2 separate regions of the Homo sapiens genome follow, and region 1 is linked to region 2. Evidence: fine-mapped expression QTL. Tissue or cell type: whole blood. Region 2 holds a variant in brackets; the other region holds the start of a gene. All regions are shown on one strand. Distances are from middle to middle.

Region 1 (8,082 bases), 53 kb before region 2:
GTGTTCCCTCTGCCTGCAGTGCTCCTGCCCAGGCCTTTAGAAGGTCAGCTCCTCTTCCTCGTTCCCCTCCTGGCTCAGACACCACTTTCTTGGAGAAGGCTTCCTGGAGTGTCCTCCCTTCCTCCCAGTGAGTACCTCTTGTAGGGCTTCTCAAAGCGTAATCCTGGATCAGCAGCGTCAGTGTCATCTGAGAACTTGCTAAAAACGGGAATTCCTTCGCTTTACCACAGACCCACTGGACCAGAAGCTCTGGGACTGAGCCCTGCAATCTATCCCTGAATGAGCCTTCCCGGCAATTCTGAGGCATCTGAGGTTTGAGAAGCACCATTCTATCATGTCATCAGATGATCACATTCTGACTCTTCCCATCCTTTGTCGTCGTTCGCTTATTTGTGATTTATCTGTCTCTTTTCACTAGACCATAAGTTCAATCATGGTGGGGACTTCGTAATACTCTTCTAGTATATCTCCAATATGTTGGACAGTGCTTGGTATTTGATAGGTATTTTTTTTGAATAAGTGAAAGAATAAATGGATGGATGGATGGTCAAACTAGGAGAGTGAGGAGAAATGCATTAAGGGTAATGCTTTCCTGGATTAAAGGTAATGCATTTTCTCTGGGACCAGTTGAATTTAAGGAGCTGGTGGGATCTCATGGGGCCGATGTAGGTGGCAATGTCACCGTTTATTCCTTATCAGTTACTTTACTCCCCGGGAGTGATCTAAATAATAACATGGGGCAGGGTTCCAGGCTGCGGTGACTTGGGAGATACCTGTTCTCAGGCAGAGGGGAGAATTCTGAGCTCAGAGGGTCCCAGTCCAGTCAGAGGAGAAGCCAAGTGGTCAGAGCAACTCCTCAGTCCCTCACTGCTAGGAGATGCTGCTTCCTTGGCTGCACAGTGGCGCTAGCATGAGGCAGAGGGAGAAAGCAATCATGAAACCCCTGGAAGAGGATCTTTAGAGGGACAGTATAGGCCAGGCATGGTGGCTCATGCCTATAATCCCAGCACTTTGGGAGGCTGAGGCCGGAAGATCACTTGAGCCTAGGAGTTCAAGACCAGCCTGGGCAACATGGTGAAACTCTGTCTCTACAAAAAATAAAATAAAATAAAATTAGCTGGGCTTGGTGTTGCATGCCTATAGTTCTGGCTACTCAGGAGGCTGAGGCTGGAGGATCACTTGAGCCCAGAAGTTTGAGGCTGCAGTGAGCTATGATCACACCACTGCACTTCAGCTTGGGTGAGCGACAGAGCAAGACCCTTTCCCTCTTAAAAAAAAAAAAAAAGACGTTATAAACAGCGCTTGCATCATACATGGGCAAAGGGAAGGGGAGAGAGAGAGAAACAGAAAGAGTGTATCAGAGGGAGTATAGCATAGTTCTTTTAATAGAATGGGACTAATAAAGACAGTTATGCGGTGCCTGCTTCCCTTTTCCCCAATGTCTCCTAACTCCTCTGGGGACTTCTGCTCCCTCACCAGAATGACCGTGGTGACCCTCAGCAGTGCCCTGTGCTCACCAGAGGGTGAAGCATAGACTGGTGTATGACAGGGGTGAGCGTGCCAGGGCACTGGTGGAGGAAAGCCTGCTCCCTGAGCAACATGCCCCACCCTGCTCCAGTGGCCTAGGGAGGGGAAGAGAGATGCCCTGCTGGGTCAGAGGGGGAGGAGCAGGGCCTGAACAGTCCAGTCTGGGATCCAGCCAGGGGAGCTCTGCTGGCTAAGAAAGAGGAGAGGAGCTGGAGATATTTATCTGGTCCTGCTCACAGAAAGCTCAGACTCAGGGGGCCTGGCTCCGCACCTGGCATTCTAGGTCCTGTCTTGCTCATCAGCTGTTAGTCACCTCACATCTGTCACTACAGCCAGGCTGGCTCCTAAGTGCCCACCTACCATGCTCCATGCTTTTCACTTCCAGCCTTTGTTGGTGACAGCTCACCCCTGCCACCAGCTGTTCTTATTGCTCTGTCCTGCTACACTGTAGATTCCTGGAAGGTGAAGAGGGAGCCTGATTTCTCTCTAGGTCCCTTGTAACACCTCCCCAGGGCTGGTATAGAATTGTGCTCCATGAAGCGGCATTAAGCAACTACATAAGCTTAGGTCTCCCCTTCCCTGATGGAGCTCCCTCTCCACCCTCAACCCTCCTCTTCTGAACATTTGCTGTGCTGCCTTCATTCCCCTCCTTCAGCACGGAAGCCCTGAATTCTGTCTACCCGCTTGGGCACTGACTCCTCGCAGCCCAGCACAGAGCTTGTCACACAATGGACTGGTTGATGGAGGATGTCCTTCTTTATCCTGCCCCATCCCCCAGAAGTACACACAATGGATCTGGAGAAGGGCAGAGCCCATGGGAGAGAGGCCAGTTCAATCCCCTGCCTTGTCCACCAGGGGCTAGCATACCACACGCATGCCTGTCCCTGCTGCCATGGCCTTCTTTCCCTCCTCTGACCCTTCTACGACCCTGGACCCCTGCAGGATTGGCCTGGAGGAGAGGCCAAGGGCAGGTGAGGAAGAGTGTATGGGTTCCCAGGCGGCCTGCCACCTCCCTGTGACTCCCATCTCTTGAATTCCCCCAATCATACTGGCTCTGCCTCCTCCTGCTGAGTTCCCATTGTCCCCTACCCCCACCCTCCCCAACCCAGGCCAGTGGCTGGGTCCCGCCCCTACCTTCGATGGGGGAGTTGATGAGGATGACGCGTCCCATGGGCGATGAGGCTCGGATTCCGCGGGGGGGCCCGTTCAGCAGCCGTTGTTGCTTCCTTAGCAGGTATCGCGTTGCGGTGGAGCCTGAGTCGCTGCCTAGGTGGCCTCGGGAGGAGAGGGAGCTCAGAGAGCCGGAGCTCAGGTCTCCTAGGCCCAGTGGGTCGAAGCCCACTGCGAAACCCTGCGCCATGGCGGCTGGGCTAGGGCGGCACCCTACAGGTCCAGAAGGAATCTGCTAGCTCTGGAGAGGCCAGCCCTGCGTGCTTCGAGCTCCATGAGCCTCTGTGCGGGGCTGGGGTCTCAGTAACGTGAAGGCCCTCGCTTGCGATGCCTCTCAGAAGTGTGAGCTCCAGGCCTGGGCAGGGAGAGCAGGGATGAGGGAGGGGTGTAAATGTTTCCCCTGCTGCCCCCTAAAACTTCCACCCCTCCCCCTGGTTTAAGCATCCTGCCCTCCCATGCCTTAGGCCCCCCTCCTGTCTCACCCTAGGCCAGAGAACTGCCCCGTCCAGGCACCATCTTGGACTCTCGCTGACTTTATACAAGGCAGGTGGGAACCTTTCACCCCTCATTCCTGCTCGGGGCTGAGTCATCTACTCCCGTCCCCAGTCCTCAGTAGAGGTTGAGAGTGGAGTTGGGATTACTGCGGGCCCTGGGGCTTAGAGAGGTGTGAGACAAAAGAGAGGTCAGGACAGCTCATGGCATCACCTCTCTCATGCATATGCGGGCATGGAGGTGGCCCGGGGTGGGGCGGGGGCTGCGTGGGGCGGGCTGGGCCTCGAGGATAGGGCTTCAGGACCTTAGACAGCTGAGGCCCAGGAAGACCCCCAGACACCCGCGGGCTCCAGGCTGCGGCTCCGGGTCTAAAGAGGCTGCATGAACCTCTCCCAAGCTTTGGGGAGGATCTGCTGGAGAGGGGTCCCACGACATCCCGCGCAAAACCCAGGGCCAGTTCCCTCAGAGAAGCTCTGGGACCTAGAATGAAGCACCCCAACATCAACTCGGCCCTCCAGGCCCCCCACCCCTTTGTGCCTGGTCGGCCTCACCTGGTCGCTGGTGTGGCGCCGCCAGCCTTGTCAAACCACCCGCAGGCGAGAGCTACTGCCGCAGCCGGCAAACCCCACCCACGCTGCGCGGAGGCTGCGGGAATTGGGCTGGCCTGCACCGCCCCGGGCTCCCATTGGCTGGTAGGGCCGCCAGTCATTCTATTCCGGCACCTCCCTTAGGCGCCAGGGACAGCCGAGCGTTACCTGGTCCCGGGCAGCGGAGTTCTTTACCCACCCCAGTTCTGGTTCTGACGCCCTAGCTCATTCCGCAAATTTAGGGCTTGGGTCTGGCTTGTTCCCCTCCGGCTCGAACCACCTCTTCTCTGAGCCGAGCCAGCTACCGGGGCTCCTGGAATTGCCACCCCTCCCTGGGCACCCTTGAGGCCTCCGTGGAGGGACGTCACGGGGCAGAGCGGGACGTGAGCCTGAGTTTGCTGCAGGCGTGCTCTGTGTGGTGGCTGGGTGAGTTGTGAGTATGTGCGTGGCGGAGGGGGTGCCTTCTTCACTTGCATCCTCCTCCTCTGTCAGAAGGCGTCTCTGGCTACCCAGTTCTGGAATGGTCGCAGGGTGGGGCAGCTGGTCCCAGGACCGGAAGAATCCTAAGAATCCTTCTGATGCACTTGCTCGGATGCAGACCGCGAGGTTCCTGGGGTCGTCTGCCCCTCCACATCTCAGGGGTGGGGCTACGGTCTGGGGTGCAGGGCTAGGGGTTGGGAGCGTAAGGAGACCAGGGACACAGTGGAGCTAGGGGTTACAGAGGGGGAGCAGGGAGAGGGCTGGGGACATAGAAGAGGCACAGGCACGACAGGAACGGGGCTGTGAAGTGATGCGAATGCCGCGCTGCTACAAGAGGAGCTTGTGGATACTGGGGTAGGAGCCCAGGGGGACAAGCAAGCCAAAGGCCATTGCCAAGGCAGCCATCAAGTAAACAAGCCAGGCGGTAACCCGAGTCCCTCCCGGCGCGCCAGCAGAGGACCGCCCCTCCACACCGCCCACCTGCGCCCGGGGCTTTCTCTCTGGGCACCTAGACCGCTTGCTGCAGGGCTGGGGGTCTGCTGAGGCCCGCCAGGGGACTGTAAACCAAGGGAGCAGCGCCCGCGGCTCCAGCCCCTCCTCCCTTTGGCTGGGGAGGGGGCCAGAACTGATCCCCGAGGTGGGATTGGCTCTGGGAAGCAGCTTAGGGCCTGGTCCAGGTGGCCCAGGCTGGGGGCATCGCCTCGAATGACACCCACCGCCCTCAGGTTCTGCCAATCCCCGTGCCCACCGGGTGGGCGCGGCCGGGAAGCTCCTGCCCCTCCCTGCTGGTCGGCGTCACGCGTGACGTCCCGCGTGATGGCTGGGAGGGCCCGGCGGCGACAGCGGAGGCAGAGAGGAAGGCGGTTCTGAGAGCTTCAGAGAGCGATGGAAAGCGTAAGTGCTCGCTCTCCCCGGCGGGCGGGGTTCTGGAATGGGGGTCAGAGAAGGAGGCCTGCCTTGAAACTGTCTGTCCTGGTGCAGTCAATGTCCTCGGCTCTGTGGAGGTCCAAGTCCACAGGGCACAAGGGAGGTTGGGGGGAGGAATGTCAGGGTGGGGCTGTGTGTAGTCACACATTCAAGTGTCTGCAGATGGGCACAGTGTGCGCCTGTAAAGGTGTTTGAAGGCCGGTGTATACAGGACACCTCCACTCTGTCTGTATGTCTGGGCAGGGTGTGCATGATAGTGTCTTTGTGTGTGGGTATGTGAGTGTGAGGGGAGGGCGTCTCTGCCTCTGCGGGAGGAAGTGTGGCTGGAGAGGATTAGTCATTCTGTAGGATTCTGCCCAACTCAGCCAGATGGCTGCACCAGGCTTTCCTCTCTGTGCTGGGTGGAGGGAGCAGCCACTGAATCCTGCTCTTATCCGGAGGCAAGTGGCCCAGAGAGAGGTGGATGAGTGTCTGTGCCAGCCCTGCCTGGCCAGGGACCAGGGAGAGCCTGGGGTCATTCAGTGTGAGTTGGAGAAAAATGGGTCTGTAGAGAGGACTTGTGCGTGCCCACATGCACACACATGGCTGACATCAGAGTCCCCTGATTGAGATCTGGAACAGATAAGCCCTGGGTGGCCAGTAAGGCCTTGCTCTCCTCCAATCAGGGACTGGAGTGTGGGATGTCTTGTGCCATTTTCCAAAACAGCCTTGGGGGTTTGTATCCAGGTCTCAGTGCAGCTGGGGCCTAAAGCTCACCTGAGCATGGGTGTGTAATATATATATTATATATTCTTGTGCATCTGTAGCACACGTGGCTGGGATGTTTGTTGCTGCTTATGTGTCAACCACATATATGTAAATCCTCACTCATGAAAATCTGTACCAGGATAGAGCACAAGGAGATCTGTTTTCCTGTTTCTGGTCTTCCCTTCCCCCTCCTCCAGTGGCTGCAGGTCCCTGGGCTGGGACATTGCCCAGGAAACAGCTCCTCCCCACACCCTTGCTTACCTACCTAGTTGAAGGGGTGGCCTGCCCCTCCACACCTGTGGGTATTTCTAGTAGGGTGGGACAAGAGACTGAGAAAAGAAATAAGACACAGAGACAAAGTATAGAGAAACAACAGTGGGCCCAGGGGACCGGCGTTCAGCATACCAAGGATCTGCACCGGCACCGGTCTCTGAGTTCCCTCAGTTTTTATTGATTATTATTTTCATTATTTCAGCAAAAAGGAATGTAGTAGTAGAGCAGGTTGATAATAAGGAGAAGGTCAGCAAAAAACATGTGAGCAAAAGAATCTATGTCATAATTAGGTTCAAGGGAAGGTACTATGCCTAGATGTGCATGTAAGCCAGATTTATGTTTCTCTCCACCCAAACATCTCAGCGGAGTAAAGAATAACAAGGCAGCATTACTGCAAACATATCTCACCTCCCACCATAGGGCGGTTTTTCTCCTATCTCAGAATTGAACAAATGTGCAATCGCGTTTTATATGGAGACATTCAGTTCCCAGGGGCAAGCAGGAGACAGTGGCCTTCCTCTATCTCAACTGCAAGAGGCTTTCCTCTTTTACTAATCCACCTCAGCACAGACCCTTTATGGGTGTCAAGCTGGGGGACGGTCAGGTCTTTCTCATCCCACGAGGCCATATTTCAGACTATGCATGGGAAGAAACCTTGGACGATACCCCGCTTTCAAGGGCAGAAGTCCCTGTGGCTTTCCGCAGTTAATTGTGCCCCTGGTTTATTGAGACTAGAGAATGGCAATGACTTTTACCAAGTATACTGCTTGTAAACATTTTGTTAACAAGGCACGTCCTGCACATCCCTAGATCCCTTAAACCTTGATTTTATACAACACATGTTTTTGTGAGCTCCAGATTGGGTCAAAGTGCTGGGGCAAAGTGGCTGGGGCAAAGCTACAAATTAACAACATCTCAGCAAAGCAATTGTTTAAAGTACAGGTCTTTTTCAAAATGGAGTCTCTTATGTCTTTCCTTTCTACATAGACACAGTAACAGTCTGATCTCTCTTTCTTTTCCCTACATCTAGTCACCTTGAGCTCTTGAAGGGACTGATGATAAGCTCAGGGGCCAGGGCAGGGGCACCAAAGATTTCCCCTAGCTGGAGCCCTTGGACCCTTGGACTCCCGCTCTGACCCTTATCTCTGTCCTGCAGAAAATGGGTGAATTGCCTTTAGACATCAACATCCAGGAACCTCGCTGGGACCAAAGTACTTTCCTGGGCAGAGCCCGGCACTTTTTCACTGTTACTGATCCTCGAAATCTGCTGCTGTCCGGGGCACAGCTGGAAGCTTCTCGGAACATCGTGCAGAACTACAGGTGACCACCCCTCAATCTGACCCTGTGTGCCAGGATCTCATTTTCTGTGATTAATATAATATGTTTTGTACCTGCCTCCTCAAGCTTGACAGTGACCCTGTCCCTCAATCCCCTCACTCTCTAGCCCCGTCTGTTGGCATCACAGAGCTTTAACCCAAAGGATTTTAGGGCATTTGGGTTGAGAAGATGGCATTGATATTTATGGGAGGGGCTGCTCTATGCATCACAAACCTCTACAGGGATCTATCCCATTGCGGGGTCACCCTCTGCAAGGATAGAGGTGCTCAAAGTGGAGTCCCAGGAAGATAGGAGGGAAATCCCCTTATCTTTGGGAGGAAAAACTCTTGCAATGCTTGCAGCCATTTTTGACCCACTGGAAACCACCATCATCCCTGACCCAGCATTTTGGCAGAAACAGAAGGGTACCCCTCTTTGTGTGGCTATAAGGGAAATAGAAATAGGAGCCTCCACTTCTGGGAAACTTTGGCCCTCTCCCAAAGATAAGGAGCTTCCTTATGCTGAGACTGGGGGCTGAAGTTCCTGGTTCTCTGTCCAGAGT
Region 2 (8,102 bases):
ACAGAGGTTTGGTGGGATAGGCTTCTTGGGGTGCTTAAATAACTTTTCTTTTTTTGAGACAAGGTCTCACTCTGTCACCCAGGATGGAGTGCAGTGGCACGATCATGGCTAACTTCAGCCCCGACTTCCCAGGCTCAGGTGATCCACCCACCTCAGCCTCCTGTGTAGCTGAGACCACCAGCACACACCATCATGCCCAGCTAATTTTTTGTAGAGATGGGGTTTCACCATGTTGCCCAGGCTGGTCTCTCCCTCCTGGGATCAAGCGATCCACCCATCTTGGCCTCCCAAAGTGCTGGGATTACAGACGTGAACCACTGTGCCCAGCCTAAATAACTTTTCTTGAGGGATTCCTGGGGTGAAGTACCTGGTGGTGAAGAATCAGAAGCCAGGCCCTGTCCCTGGGATTAAGGACAAGGAATGAGAAGGAAGAGGGAGGAATAAGAGGAAGGGAACAAGAAGGAAAAGGAAAAGGTGTTTTGAAGAATGAGGAATGTTTAGCAGGGAAGAAGAGGGAAAAGCGGAGGGACCTGGAAGTTTGGTGATCCTTGAAATAGTGGGGGTGCTGTCCTTGGTCCTGACTGACAAAGGGCCCACGAATAGCCCAGACGGAGTGCCTACCCCAAACTCCCTGCAATTTCCCATGAAGGTGACCAGATGATTTTGGAGGAAGAACAAAGAGCTAGAGCTGCATCTGATGGGAACTGAATCCACAGGCCTGGCTTCGCTCTCACACCTTCTCCTTCTCCTACCTTTCCCCAAAGCAACTCCCTGTTTAATAAATGCTCCTTGCAAGAGGTAGACAGTTGTGGGCTCAGAGGAGATCTGGGCAGGACTCCTGGGGAAGGGTGCAGGTACCTGTGCCCTGAAGACCCCTGGCCTAAGTCCCTCCTCATGAGATAAGTTGGCTGGAAAGTGGAGGTGCCCTAAGGTGGGAGTACTGGCCTGATCAGATTAAAAGCAACCAGATCCTGCTAAAAGCCTGGATTGACATTATGCTTCCACTTTCTCTCCTGTTCCTTTGCAGAACTTGAATACCAACACCATTTTTCCCTCCTTTAAAAAATTGTATGTAACAAGCTGTTCACAGGCAGGCCTTGCACAGATGGGGGTTTAATCAGCTACAGTCTAAGCACACAAGCATTCCAGCCTAATTCAATTCCTGTCAGTTCATTAGGGGAAATATTCATCACCCAGAGATTACAGCAGGGCCAAAACTCTGAATGGATTCTAAAGAGCTGTCAGTGGAGTAGCAACTGCACCAGCCTATGCAGGGGGCCATATTGTGTGGAGGGTGTCTGGCAGCCCTGGCCATGCTCTGAGACCCCTGATCCTACCGGGCTTCTTCACAGGGACTCTGTTTTGAGAATCACTGTTTTGCAGACCTCAAGGCAAGGCACTGAGGGGGAAGATAAGAGAGAAATACAACTGCATTTGGGAGTCCCTATTTAAAGGGGACATGGAGGCTCCTCCTTTTAGGGAGCCTCTAGTCCAATGGGGGAGACGTGGCTTCCACCCTCCGGAGTGCTCTCTGAGTTCTCTGAAGACTGCTGACTTATAAATGATTAGACTTTTCTTTCTTTTTTTTTTTTTTTTTTTTTTTGAGATAGAGTCTTACTCTGTTACCCAGACCGGAGTGCAGTGGTGCAATCTCTGTTCACTGCAACCTCCGCCTCCTGGGTTCAAGAGATTCTTCTGCCTCAGCCTCCTAAGTAGCTGGGATTACAGGCACCTACCACTATGCCCGGCAACTTTTTGTATTTTTAGTAGAGATGGGGTTTCACCATGTTGGCCAGGCTGGTCTCAAACTCCTGACCTCAAGTGATCCACCCACCTCAGCCTCCCAAAGTGCTGGGATTACAAGTGTGAGCCACCATGCCCGGCTGATTAGACATTTTTGTCCTAAAATCTCTAGCAAGAAATTACCTCCTCACAAAGGCACAGGTGGGAGTATGATTCCCACCAGTTCCTGCAGTTAAATTGGAGCAGAAGCTGGAAATAGAAGTCAGGGCACAGACTCAAGACCATGGGACGCTATTACTTTTCTTGTGCCATGGGAGCCTAGGTCAGGTGAACCTGGGCGGTGGAGGTAAGGGATCTCTTCCAGGTTGGATTTTCCCAAATAGATGAGACCCTCAATATCAAGTGACCTTAACCATCTCGTATGGAGAGGCTTGAGTATTTCCCTGTGTGTAGTTTCTGCCCACATCCCTATATGAAGCGTAGGAAGCTTGTTTGTTGATCACCTCTGGCTTTCCCAGGGCTATCCTCTGCCTCCCATTTTTCTCTTGTCCTCCCTGGTGGTGGTGCGGAAGTCTTGCCTTGGATGGTTCACTAATCCTAGGGTGTCTGAACCAAAGGCAAGGCACTCACAGGGCTAGACTTTGGCCTCAAAGCCCATAGTGCTTCCTGCCATCCCGTTTCTAGGCTTCAGCCCTAGACATGTCCTCTGGACTGAGGAGAGCTGGTCACCTGTGAGGTCTATTTCCTCTGCCTAGGTCTTCTGCCCTTTTGCTCACCTGGGCTAAGACGGAGAATGGGAGAGAAGAAACACGGAGCATGTGGCCTACCCTCCCATGTGGGTGAGGGAGAGCTTCCTGCAGCTGAGACCCGAAAGATAACTGTGAGGTACCAGTTGAGGGGCTGGGGAGGATTTTTGCCCTCACTGAGCCCCTGTGCTCCCTAGACTTCTTTCCCAGACTCCTGAAACCCATTCTTGGCTCAGAGTCCTTCAGTCAGTCTCCATGAGCCCTACCCCTCCACCCACAGCCTGCCCAGCATCCGGCTTCCTAGGGAGTCCCTCGGCTCTGAGACTACATCAGGACAATATTCCACAGGGATTCAGTTGGAAGACTTCTGACCTGGAGGGTGGGGTCTGGCTGTTTCTCAAAGGGAGCGACCAAAGCCTAGAAGGCACATAGGCTCTGCCACTCTCAGGCCCATCTCCTTAGGAAGGAATCAGGGACAGCAATAAGAACCCAGAACAAAGGGCCAGGAGGCTGATAGAGGGGACAAGATCCAGGTCAGAAACAAAAACTCAGCTTAGCCACAGTGATGCTTGAGAGTTATGAGATGGCTGGGGAGATCCACAAGCACCTTTTCATTGGGCACAGGTATAACCTACCTTGAACTTGGGACCTGGAGCCAGGTCCTGACACTGAATGGGCAGTTATAATCTACTTGGGAGCCTGGCTAGAAACCTTGTTTTCCCACTTACTAGCTAGGGAATCTTTGGTGAGCCACTTTTTTTGTTTTGTTTTGTTTTTTTATTTTATTTTATTTTATTGA[G/A]ATGGAGTCTCCCTCTGTCATCCAGGCTGGAGTGCAGTGGCGTGATCTCGGCTCATTGCAACCTCCGCTTCCTGGGTTCAAGTGATTCTCCTGCCTCAGCCTTCCAAGTAGCTGGGACTACAGGCATGCGCCACCACACCTGGCTAATTTTTGTATTTTTATTAGAGACAGGGTTTGACCATGTTGGCCAGGCTGGTCTCGAACTCTTGAACTCAAGCTATCGGCCTGCCTCAGCCTCCCAAAGTGCTGGAACTACAGGCATGAGCCACCATGCCCGTCCTGTTTTGTTTTTTAGACAGAGAGTCTTGCTCTGTCACCCAGGCTGGAGTGCGGTGGTGTAACCATAGCTCACTGCAGCCTTGAACTTCTGGGCTCAAGTGATCCTCCCATCTCAGCCTCCCAGGTAGTTAGGACTTCGGACATGTGTCACCACACCTGGCTCATTAAAAAAAATTTGGGGGAGCCAAACATGTTAGCTCATGCCTGTATTCCCAGTGCTTTGTGAGGCAGAGGTGGGAGGACTGCTTGAAGCCAGGAGTTTGAGACTATCCTGGACAACATAACAAGACCCTATCTCTACCAAAAAATAAAAAATAAAAATTAGCTTGCTGCAGTGGTGTGCACCTCTGTGCACCTGCAGTGGTGCGCAGTGGTGTGCACCTCTCAGCTACTCAAGAGGCTGAGGTGGGAGGACTGCTTAAGCCTGAGAGTTTGAGGCTGCAGTGAGCTGTGATTGCACCACTGCACTCCAGCCTGGGTGACAGAGCAAGACCCTGTCTCTAAAAATAATAAAATAAATTTTATTAAATACATACCAAATTTTATTTCAAGGAACTGGTTGATGCAATTGTGTGGGTTGGCTAAGTAAGTCTGATATCTGTAGGGCAAGCAGTCAGGAAGGAAAGATCAGGAACAAGCTGGAACCCCCTGGGTGCTAGCAAAGCTGCTGTCCACAGGCAGTCGGGATGGGAGAACCTAGCAAAGGGAGAACAATTCTACACCAAGCTGCTGTTTGGAGCATCCTTCATCAGGGAGAGCCCTGACCCTTTACAGGCTCATCTGACTAGGTCAGGCCCATGGAGGATAACCTCCCTCACTTAAAGCCAACTGATTAGGGACTTTGATTACATCCTCAAAGCCCCTTTACAGCAGGACCTAGATTAGTGTTTATTGAGTACCTGGGAGAAGGTGTGCGGAAGCTGCAAAATGCCTGCTTTGTTTTGGGAGGCTGAGGAGGGCAGATCACATGAGGCCAGGAGTTTGAGACCAGCCTGATCAACATGGCAAAACCTTGTCTCTACTAAAAATACAAAAATTAACCAGGTGTGGTAGTGCACATCTGTAATCTCAGCTACTCGGAAGGCTGAGGCAGGAGAATTGCTTGAACCTGGGAGGTGGAGGTTCAAGTGGCTTGAACTCCACCTGGGAGGTGGAGTGCAGTGGCTTGATCTCGGCTCACTGCACTCCAGCCTGGGTGAACCTATCTGACAGGATTCTAGCCATTGAGAAGATGGGGCACCTCTTCCTTAGCAAAGGGAGGCTAAGGAGATCCCATCCTGAGTTTCCCATGGTCAGAAGTAAGTGTGTCTCTATGGGACTCCTGGGGCTTGTGGACATGGTGTAGGATGGGGAGAACCTCAGGATTAACCAGCACTCTTGGGGGTCCCCTGCTCTGGCTTTTTGGGGCCACCAGAGCCAGAGCTACAGTGGCAGTTGATGGGAATAGCCCTCAGTGACCAGTGGGGCTTCAGCAGGTAATTACCCGGCAAAAGCTGGGAACTGACAGGGTAATTATTAGCTTCTAATTGCAGGGCAAACTCAGGCCGGGATCCTTCTCTCCAAAGCAGAGGGCATTACTATTTGCATAGCAATTAATTACTTTGGGAGCTACGGAATTTAATTACCCACTAGTCCACAGGAGCCAATAATTAAATTACTCTCAGAAACAGGGTATTTATTTCCCAGTTAGTGTGAGCAGGTAGCTCTTCCTTTGGGGGGTGTGCCTGGGTGATGACCCCTAAACCGATTGCTGGTCCTTGGCCTGAGCAGGCAAAGAGTGGTGACCACGGTGCCCAGCAGGGAGTGCCCGCACCTTGATGAGGACGGACACCCAAGCATACACAGATACAGGCCCTTGTAGGGCATGCAGACACATGATACCATGTGCTAGCCATGACTCATGGACTGGCGTTTGGATGTACAGTAACTCATTGTAAGTGGGGCACACACACTCAGCGAGAATTACACACATGGTGAGGAACAGGCAAAGAGGCCAAAGAGGGAATTTTGGCTCTATCATTTTGCCACTATTGTTTTGCCTAACTTGCATCAAAATGTGTTTGTGGTACTATGTACTTTGGTCAACAGGCTGTGGTTCTGAGCCCATATGGAATCCATCTTCATCCCTGATGCCTCTCAAAATGGGGTTTGGGTTGGGAGGGCCTCAGGACAGAGTAGGCGCTAGGGAGGGGCTGGCACTGTCTATTTTGAACATCAATTGATTTTTTTGTTTTTTGAGAGGGACTCTCACTTTGTTGCCCAGGCTGGAGTGCAGTTGTGCAATCTTGGCTCACTGCAACCTCCATCTCCCTAATTGAAGCAATTCTCATGCCTCAGCTTCCCGAGTAGCTAGGATTACAGGCACCCACCCACCACACCCAGCTACTTTTTTTTGTTTGTTTTTGGTAGAGAGACAGGGTTTCACCATGTTGGCCAGGCTGGTCTCGAACTCCTGACCTCAAGTGATCTTCCCACCTCAGCCTCCCAACATGCTGGGATTACAGGCGTGAGCCACCATGCCTGGCCACATAACTTGATTTTTTAAAATCCTGAAAGTTTAATGTTTTTGCATCAAAATGGCCATGCCAAAATGTCATATATGCCTGAGAGACAGGAGTTGATAGAAGACCCTGAGGTCTGGAGGAACCTAGAGACTTCCAAATAGAAAGCAGCCCCTTGAAGCAGAGCTGTGTTGGGTCCAGCATTTACTCTCCCTCTTCATAGAAAACAGGGTCCCAGAAGGAGGCATGAAGGGATGGGGTGTGTCTGGGTTAGCTTGCCCAGTGTCAGGACCTCCAGTCCTGAAGGAGAAAGCCCAGAGCTGGGTGGTGTCTGCCAGGTCCGCTCTCCCCGAAGTCCACTCCTCGCCTTCCTTGGCGTTGCTTCCCATTGGCTGCCTGGGGGCAGTGGTCAGAGGTAACTGAGGCAATGTGGTTTTCACCTCTATCTACTTAGAGAGTATGGGAAGTCCCTGGCCCTGGAGCTGGGGATTCTAGTGTTAGAGGCAGCCTTGCTGCTTGGTGGGTTGCCCATTCCTCTGGGCTGGTGGGCCCAGGTCTTTGTGCACTGCTCCCAATAAGGAAGGGCAGAAGAATGGGGCCCGCTTCCCTTGTTCTCCACTCCCTTCATCCTGAAGGTGTCTCAGGCAGGTCAAGTGGGCACTGGTTATTCTGTGGTTATCTTCCTTCCTCCTTTTCCCCAGGTGACTATGGAACCCCTCGCATGTGCAGGTCCAGAGCCAGGCCACCGCACAGCCCCACTGCCCCATCCCAACTGATGTCAGCTCCCAGCCCCTGACCCCTTGGAATTCCCCTCCAAAGCCTAGAGCTGAGTCCCTGTCGCCATCCTTCCAGCTTAGCCTTGGGCCCTTCCCAGGTGGGATCCTGTAGATGCTTCTAATGAAGTTCTCTCTGACTCTGTTTGGGGCACCCACCACCCGTGGAAAGGAGCGGCGGCCGCCCCGGCCCAGGCTGCTGACAGCAGCAATCCATCTCCATCACAGTAATGGCGTCCCCATTAATCGGCCATAAACTAATAAAGCAATCACTTTCCACCCCTCACCCCCCCGCCCCAACTTCATTAAGTCTTTAGTACATTAATATGTCTTACTTAGTGTCAGCCAAGCCTCTTTCTCTGTTTGGGGTGGAGCATGCTGGGGTGGGCACCTCGCCCGGTGGGTGGGGGCACATGACCCCTCTCCTGGTCTGGGTAGGGGGCTGCTGACTCAGGGCAACCCACTCCCCCTCTCCCTCCTTCCTCTCCACCCACTGTCCCCTTGAGGGCCTTGAAAGGCTGCAGAGAAGAGGAAGAGCGAGAGGAACAGGAAACTGTGGAGCAGGAGAGAGGAGGAAACGGGAAAGGAAAAGGAAGGAGGAAGACGGGATGAGCTGGGGAGGAAGGGGGGAAGCTGGGAGGAAGGGGGAGACGGAATGGGGGAGGAGCTGTGCACCTCCAAATTAAATTTGTGATTCAGGCATCAGATGGGCCGACAGCCAGAGATTAATTCAACTGATCGAGTTATAAAGAGCGGGAGGCCTGGGTAATCAATCTTGCAGCTGTCAGGCCGACAGGCAGGAGTATTAACCTGGCGAGACGGCACGTACCCAGGACTTTTTCATTTCATTCACCCCAACCATGTCCCTGACCACCTCTGGTCTGTCTCTCCAAGTAATAATAATTACGGCTGTTAACGATGACAGAGACAGGATGAGGGGACGGGCTCCTGCGGCAGGGCTTCCTCTCCCGGAGCTCCCACCCACTGCTCCTCTGACCACTCCCAGAAGGTAGAGCAAGGACCAGCTCATGGCACTCTTTGAGAGGTGGGGAAATCGAGGCAGGAATTCCAAAAAGACCTTCAGACAGGCCAGAGGTGGGGCTGGAAAGGTACTTTGGGATAAAGGACAGTGCCCTAGATCCCTCTCAACTCTCGGGAAAAGAATTGTCCTTAAGTCAGCCAGCTTGGCCCCAACACGTTCAGCTGTGGCCAGGGAAGCTGGAATCAGGAAGGTGAGACAGATCCCCTCCTCCGGGCTATT

What was found. PIP is the estimated chance that this variant, and not a neighbour inherited with it, causes the effect.
Region 1: it holds the start of SFXN3, and the variant in region 2 is fine-mapped to the expression of SFXN3 in whole blood (INTERVAL, PIP 0.97).

The regions. Positions count from the first base shown.
Region 1 is chr10:101,027,333-101,035,414 of GRCh38, forward strand. SFXN3 (sideroflexin 3) reads left to right here and starts at 3,902. Exons shown (of 12, transcript NM_030971.6): 1 at 3,902-4,202; 2 at 4,982-5,150; 3 at 7,360-7,523. The coding sequence starts at 7,363. PDZD7 (PDZ domain containing 7) reads right to left here and starts at 3,797. Exons shown (of 17, transcript NM_001195263.2): 1 at 3,741-3,797; 2 at 2,662-3,052. The coding sequence starts at 2,887. RefSeq lists an enhancer at 4,215-4,424.
Region 2 is chr10:101,080,569-101,088,670 of GRCh38, forward strand. No RefSeq gene overlaps it. Among named protein-coding and RNA genes, the nearest start is that of KAZALD1, 23 kb to the left of the region's middle. RefSeq lists silencers at 424-718, 491-691. The variant G/A (reference allele first, on the strand shown) is at 3,289.